Homo sapiens: one gene and its partner. The protein of the gene in region 1 purifies or fractionates together with the protein of each later gene. This does not show direct contact. Each region holds a gene or a part of one and is shown in the gene's direction. Other genes may lie near its edges.

Evidence for each region. The genes of interacting proteins can lie anywhere in the genome.
Region 2: the proteins of BTD (region 1) and IDS fractionate together in Homo sapiens (co-fractionation; one large-scale study listed by BioGRID). This does not show direct contact.

Annotation. Positions count from the first base shown.
Region 1 is NC_000003.12:15,604,429-15,608,511, forward strand, and holds part of BTD (biotinidase isoform 1 precursor), read left to right. Parts: intron 1-2,012; exon of another isoform or gene 2,013-3,502; intron 3,503-4,083. UniProt on the Homo sapiens protein: Catalytic release of biotin from biocytin, the product of biotin-dependent carboxylases degradation.
Region 2 is NC_000023.11:149,484,376-149,488,458, reverse strand, and holds part of IDS (iduronate 2-sulfatase isoform a preproprotein), read left to right. Parts: intron 1-1,145; coding exon of another isoform or gene 1,146-1,171; exon of another isoform or gene 1,172-1,328; intron 1,329-1,360; coding exon 1,361-1,534; intron 1,535-4,083. UniProt on the Homo sapiens protein: Lysosomal enzyme involved in the degradation pathway of dermatan sulfate and heparan sulfate.

The DNA of each region.
Region 1 (4,083 bases):
ACCCTGGACCTGACCCATGAAACCATTTTTCCTCCTAGGTTTCTGGGCCTGTGATGGGAGGGCCTGTTGTGAAGGTCTCTGACATGCCCTGGAGACATTTTCCCCATTGTCTTGGTGATTAATAGTTAGCTTCTTATTACCTATGCAAATTTCTGCTGCCAGCTTGAATTTCTCCCTAGAAAATGGGTTTTTATTTTCTACTGCATCGTCAGTCTGCAGATTTTTCAAATTTGTATGCTCTGCTTCCTCTGGAACACTTTGCCATTTAGAAATTTCTTCTGCCAGATACCCTAAATCATCTCTCTCAAGTTCAAAGTTCCACAGATCTCTAGGACAGGGGCAAAATGCCACTAGTCTCTTTGCATAGCAAGAGTGACCTTTACTCCAACTCTGAATAAGTTCCTCATCTCCATCAGAAACCACTTCAGCCTGAATTTTATTGTCCATATCACTATCAGCATTTTGGTCAAAGCCATTCAATAAGTCTCTAGGAGGTTCCAAACTTTCCCACATTTTCCTGTCTTCTGAGCCCTCCAAGTCTCTAGGAAGTTCCAGACTTTCCCACATTTTCCTATCTTCTTCTGAGCCCTCCAAACTGTTCCAACTTCTGCCAGTTACCCAGTTCCAAAGTTATTTCCACAGTTTCGGCTGTCTTTACAGTAGTGCCCCACTCTCTGCATTACCAATTTTCTGTGTTAGTCCCTTTTCATACTGCTATGAAGAAATACTCAAAACTGGGTAATTTATAAAGAAAAAGAGGTTTAATAGATTCACAGTTCCACATGGCTGGAGAGACGTCACAATCATGGTGGAAGATGAAGGAGGAGCAAAGGCACGTCTTACATGGCGACAGGCAAGAGAGTGTGTGCAGGGAAACTCCCATTTATAAAACCATCACAGCTTGAGACTTATTTGCTATCACAAGAACAGCATGGGAAAAACCCTCCCCAATGATTCAGTTACCTCCCACCAGGTACCGCTCATGATATGTAGGGATTATGGGAGCTATAATTCAAGATGAGATTTGAGTGGGGACATAACCAAACCATATCAGGGACCCATCTCAGAGGGTGACTTCTTTCAAGTCTCAGAGTGTATCTAAAAAGAAAATGCAGATTTTGTATTATACTCTAGAATGTATCCATATTTTAATTTTAAAATGACATTTATTGAGATATAATAAAGATACAATTCAATGTCCAGATTTTAAATGTTAGATGAGTTTTGACAGTTATATATATATATATCTATGAAATCACCACCCAAAATAAAAATGACATTTTAAACTGCTTACCTGTCAAGTAAAATTGACATTCCAGAAAGATGTGAAACGGGCTGGGCACAATGGCTCATGCCTGTAATCCCAGCACTTTGGGAGGCCGAGGTGGGCAGATCATCTGAGGTCAGGAGTTCGAGGCCAGCCTGGCCAATGTGGTGAAACCCCATCTCTGCTAAAATACAAAAATTATCCAGGTGTGGTGGCACATGCCTGTAATCCCAGCTATTCGGGAGACTGAGGTGGGAGAATCGTGTGAGCCAGGGAGGTAGATGTTGCAGTAAACCAAGATTGCACCACTGTACTCTAGCCTGGGTGACAGAGCGAGACCCTGTCTCAAAAAAAAAAAAAAAAAAAAAAAAGATGTGAAATCATCTTTGCACTTTGAGTAGTCCTTGACACAATGCCTCCTGTCCTTGTTGAAGAAGTACAGACTTCCCCTTCCATCATGTATTATTTATATCAGTACCTTTTGTGACAGTCTCTGCCCCTGTTGCATTAGAGTCACTTGGAAAGCTTTTTCCAAATAGTTACTTGGGCCCTACCCCAGATCTCCTGAATCAGCATCTTAGGACAAGTCAGGCACCTGTATTTTTTAAAAGCTGCTACCTGATTTTGCTTTGCAGCCCAGAGTTGAGAACCCTAGCTCTGTTTTCATGCCAGAAGCATGAGTTACTAATTAAACATATGATTGCCTGTCACCAAAGTAATACTGTTGATTAATTTGGATTGACAGGTTCAAGACTGATTTGACATTGACAGAACAAGCTGTATCGATGGTAGTCAGTTCACTGGGCCTACTTCTGTGTCAAAAGAAACAGTGACAGAACCACTCAGTATGAAGTGCAATGAAAACTGAACTCTGAATTGGAACAAATAACTGGAATTCAGTTAACTGGTTTTGCAAAAGGATAAATACTCAACTGGTTGTTTTCTGCCATTTAACAAAGAGAAAAATCATTGGGATTGTTTAAACTTGCTTTCACCTTTGCACCTTTCAGTTCAGGATGCAGTGTTCAATTGTTAACTTGGGCTTGATGATTCAGCAGAAAGAAATGATTTGAGTTCTGGCTCACTGGATTAACAGGGCCAAGGAGCAAGTCCTTTGCAATCCAATTGTAATTACAGCCAGCTTGTCCAACCCTTGGCCCAGGATGGCTTTGAATGCGGCCCAACACAAATTCATAAACTTTCTTAAAACATTATGAGATTTATGCACCGACCCTTTTTTTTGTTGTTGTTTTTGGTTTTTTTTTTTTTTTTTAGCTCATCAGCTATCATTTGTGTTAGTGTATTTTATGTATGGCCCAAGACAATTCTTCTTTTTCCAGTGTGGCCCAGGGAAGCCAAAAGATTGGATACCCCTGACAGGATTCCAGGATTCTTTTGTAATTTCTCAGAGGCCCTCTGTGCATACTCCGTAAGGACTATCCACATTCTTTATTACTTTCATTGGCAATAGGTATAAAATTTTATTTGTTGGATATTTTACTGAAATGTTACTTGTTTTTGCTTATTTACTGATTGGTGGGAGGAAGTCAAAGGATGAATAAATCTAACCTTTTTAAAAGAAAAGGCTAAAATACTCATAACATGCTCTCCAAAGAGCAGAGCTAGTCATCAAAGAATCTGCATACCAATTACTCTATTTGTAGGTTCTGGATTTGAGATTATGAAAAAGAGCAAATTGGTGGTTTTCTTCTCTCTGGGCCAGGGAGATATCCAGGCAACCAGGTAATTTAGTAAGAATTGCAAATATAGTGCCTGGAGACAATTTATTCTCTAAAGACTGCAGCTTCTACAGGCAGTAACTCTTAAAGCCCCCAAATTGGGATAGTGCATTTTAATTTCCGTATACTAACAAGGACACTAAAAATCCTTGTGATTATTTTAAAGCATAACACTAGCTGAACTTGTGATTAAGTATTCTCACAAATGTATTATCAAAATGTGAAATGTTTACTTATCAAATGAGGAAATGAATCAAGGTCATTTGTGATACATTATAGAAGCTAAAAATGAAATTGCCTGACATAAGATAAAACTGATACTGAATATCTTAAAAATAAAAAGGCGGAAACAACAAAAAAAGGAGTCTATGTAGAACACTATTTTTTATAGCAATGCAAAAACTGTACAGCCGGAAATGTGTTGTAGGAAATATGTCAACATAGGAAGTAAAATAATGTAATGAAAAGGTTCTTTGAATAAAGTGGGTTAAATTGATTTTCTTTGCTTCTCATTAAATCTGTGGACTTCAGAGTACCAAAGCTCAGCAACAGGCTTGAAACAAACCCAGTGAAAAGCAACTTTATTATTGAGCTGAGGATTGATATCAGTAATAACTCATTAATAAAAAAGCTTGATAATAAAAACTCCCAGTGCCTGATGCCAGCTGACAGACACTGGGAGTTTTCCCAGGTACCCTGTGACCTAGAGAAAGCTTGGATTCCTGCCTTTGGCTTGGGCTGGCAAGCCCTGTGCCTTTACTCTACATTTTAATGCCAGGGAGACCTGGAACTGGAGAAGGGAGTGCTGTGGGAAGAAAACAGAAGGAATGTTGTTCCCTTGTTTTAGCTTTGTGTTCATCCATTATGGGTTTTGGGTTTTTTTGTTTTTTGTGTTTTTTTAAGAACATTTGAGATAGTTTGACAGCAGCAGTCATTACATCACTGACGAGGACGTTTACTTGTGTAAAATGCACCAGGAAATAGTGACAACTGTATGTTGTGCTATGAGGATGTAAGAGATTTATCTCAAATGGCTTAGAAATCAAAATATAGGTCAGTGCGGTGGCTCACACCTGT
Region 2 (4,083 bases), on another chromosome or scaffold:
CTGCCAGGTTCCCTCACGTTGCCATCCTGCAGGCTTCTCGATCCTTGACCTTTTAGATTCCCGCCACACTGAATCTAAAAGGGACAATGTGACCTCTAAGCTGGTGGCCTAGGAGCCTGCCGATAACCTACCCATTCATCAGCCCTCGTGGGTCAAGGCTGCCTCGTCCTCCCCGAGAGAGTGGAGAGGTCGAGCAGTGGGGATGCCCCTCAGGCCCCGGGGCTTACTGACTGGGGCGGGTGTCAGGGGGAACTCCCTCTCTTTCTGAGCTCCACTGAGCTATCTGAAAGTCCCCACCATACTCCCCAGTACTGACAGCCAGAGGGAGGAACGGCTCACCAGAATCATTGGGCATCTCTGATGGGCATCAAGTCTGCTTTGATTATTGATGAGTGGGTAAGAGGGTCCTCTCAACTTGGGGTCTCCTTGGGAAAGCACTGTCAACTCAGAACAGGTTTCAGCCCTGTTCTGGAGACCACAGGCCCTGGAAGGCTGGGACATCATTTGCAGCCCCAGCGTCATCTATTAGACGGAGCCAGCAAGGTCTCATGCTGTGCGGTACATTTCAACACTTTCTCAAATTTACCCGTGGCAGCTTTTGGTGTGTTTGGTTATTTTTATAACACTACTCACTGTACAATTTCTGTCATGCACATTTTTTGTATCAAAAAGGGTGCTGTAACTTTAAAAGACTGGGTATTTCCAACTTGGAATATTCAAACCATCTTTTGCAAGGGATGTTTTAAATAGGCATGAAGGGTTGTTTTTAATTGAGGTTAAGGATCTGAAATGAGAGGTTTTGGTTTACCCTATCTATGGTATGTCTTAAAAATCAACGAAGATGTCCTTGTCTTTTTTGAATTTGCCGAGTGTGTTGCAGTTCCACAGCTCACTGTTAGGTGGCACATACCCCAAACTGAAAACCTGACCTCGTAGGGCATGAGTCAAAAGACAGGTAGGCACAGGACAGGGCAGTGGTGACACTACAGCTTTCAGGGTTCCCAGCCTGTCAAGAATGAGCATGTCTTAGCAGGGGAGGAACGCATGTGTGGGAACCGCCACAGAGTCCTACGTTAGGTATATGTTGCTAGTAGTTTGTTAAGATATTTGAGTTTGGGAATTTAATTATTTTTTCTTTTTTAAAGGTTTCCTCATGAGGACAAATACCTGATTTTGAATAAAGCAGCATTCAGTTGAAATAACCCTTTCTGTGGTAATTCCAAGTGAATATTTTTCTTCTAGGTGATGAGTTTCTACTTCCTCTGGTTTTTACAACAGGAAATGAAATGGTATCTAAAATAAACAAGCTGTGGTATGATGATTATTCATTTTCTGTCATTCTGTGCTTTTTATGAACTAGGGTGGGCTCTAGGTGAACATGGAGAATGGGCCAAATACAGCAATTTTGATGTTGCTACCCATGTTCCCCTGATATTCTATGTTCCTGGAAGGACGGCTTCACTTCCGGAGGCAGGCGAGAAGCTTTTCCCTTACCTCGACCCTTTTGATTCCGCCTCACAGTTGATGGAGCCAGGTATAAAATATGCTGAAATGATATTGCTTGACAGTAAGATCACCTTTAGTTTATATGTGAACCACTTTATTGAATCATAGGCTTTGGGGGTTACACAGACCCCCCCTTCCTGCCTTGTGTTGGAATTTCTTCTCAACATTTTGTGGTCAGCACACGCTTTCTGAACATCTCCCATACTCTGGGTGGGGAAAGAGTGACAGAACCAGAATTGACAAGTATGGCCCCTGTCCACAAGGAGCCTTGTGGGATGATGATGGACAAAGGAACAGGTGCATCCCCAAGATGGGGAGGGCTGTGGTACAGTCTACAAGAGCCTGCTCCAGAGCTTAGAGTAAGGGGCTGCCCCCGTAACAGACGAGGAGAATCCTTTCCCTCGATGCGCACTTTTGGTAGGGACTCAGCCTTCTTTGTGGGGGGCACATTTTCCATTTTGACAGCTCATCAATCTAGTGAACCACTAGATCTGTAAAATCTACCAGGTGATTCTACTCTGCCCTCCCCAGCAGTGAAGGGCAAGTTTACTTTGACTTCCATGTGCCAGTCCTTCAAAGCTTTGAAAACAGCACTGATGCCCCCGACCCTGTCCATCCACCAATATCTTCTCTTCTCTAGGCTGAAATCCCCAGCCCTTCAACCATTCGTCACAAGGTAGTGTTTAGACGCGTGGTTGTCCTGGTCTCTGTCTTCCAAAAAGTTTCAGTTTGAGAAAGCACTTCCAGAATACCAGTTGGACCAGATACCCCTCCTGGATGTGTGGGCAACCTGTATGGGTTCTTGTGAGTTCTATCCTGACTTGATCTGCCCAGTGCATTTCAGGGACAGGTTGTACACTGTCTCTGAAATGACGTATGACGTTTGCTCTTTTTGGAGTGCCTCTTCTATGAACTATGCTAAACCAGATTGCCCCCTTTCTGGACTTAAGCATTTAATCCATCCTTAACATCTAAATCTTGTACTGTATATTGATTCCTGTTTAAATTTGTCTTGGTTCTGGACCATCATTCGGGCCTTTCTGGATCTTTCTGAGCTTGCTTTATACTACCCAATTTTATTTTTTGCACTTTGATTTTTGTGCACTGCATGTCCTGTCTTCTTTCATGTCATTGATAGAAAGGTTAAACAGTTTCAAGGCATGATTTTAGCCCTTTGTTTGCTGGGAAAGATCTTCTGATTGGTTGAGAATCTTTTCTGAAACTTTTGTTGGGAAGTGTTCAGCAATTTAGAAATTGATGTAACTGCACGGCCTTTCAGTTTATTTCCAAATTTTATCTCTAGCTGTGTCTTTTCCCTGAACTTCAGACTTTTGTTTCCAATAGTCTTTCCCACTTAGCCAGCCTAACATATCCAAAGCTGGACTTCACATCTTTCATCTTCAGCTTTTCCTTCAACACTCTTCTTGTCCTCAAGAAATGAGAATAGTCACTCATGCCAAAAAATCATGGAATAATCTCAACCCCTGTTCTTCTCTTACTCCATATGCAATATTCAGTCTATGAGAAAGCCTGTCACACTCCATTCAGACTCTGTGTACCACTTCCCACCACTTCGCCTGCCACTGTCTTGGACCAGACTGCCACTGTCTTGTGCTGAAGTACTGCAAGAGCTTGCTAAATGGTCCCCTTGCTTGTGCCCTGGATCCCTTGGAGGTTTTCCTCCTCAGAGCAGCCACAGTGATTCCATTAAAACCCAAGTCAAGTCATGTCACAGCCCGGCACAGGAGCCTCTTATGTACCCTTCTTGATCTGAGTAAAAGTCGTCACAGTGGCCTTACATGTTCTGGCCCCATTATCTCCCTGACCTCATCTTTTTATAAGTATCCAGGCCAGTTGTCCTATAACAGTGTCCCACAGCCTGGATTTATCTGATTGCTTCCACATGACTACATTCAGGGTAACATTTTTGACACGTGTGCTACATGGGCTGTTGTATTCTCCCATTGTGTCACATGGTGGGGGCACTTCATGGCCAGCGTTACTAGTATTGTAAGTTTGAACACTCGGTTGAAGAGCTAGCTAGCATCAGCCAGATCTTGCCATTGTAAAGGTACCTTTTTCAACTTTCTTTACTTGTTTTCTTTTTATTTTACTTAAAAATTAAGTGTCTAGAAAATGAAATCAAGCATGATAAAGCACTGTCTTAAAGATCCAGAAGGGCCAGAATGGTAGTGCAAATCCAATTGCAATTTTAACAGGAATCAATATAAAGTACAGTATTTAGACTTTAAATATGGATGAACCGCAATGAAATACTACTTCATACCCACTAGGATGGCTATTAATAAAAAACAACAACAAAAGCTGTGAAAGGCTGGGCGTGGTGGCTCACGCCAGTAATCCCAGCACTTTGGGAGGCCAAGGTGGGCGGATCACGAGGTCAGGAGATCAAGACCATCCTGGCCAACAAGGAGAAACCCCATCTCTACTAAAAATACAAAAATTAGCTGGGTGTGGCGGTGCATGCCTGTAATCCCAGCTACTCAGGAGGCTGAGGCAGGAGAATCACTTGAACCTGGGAGACGGAGGTTGCAGTGAGCTGAGCCGAGATTGCGC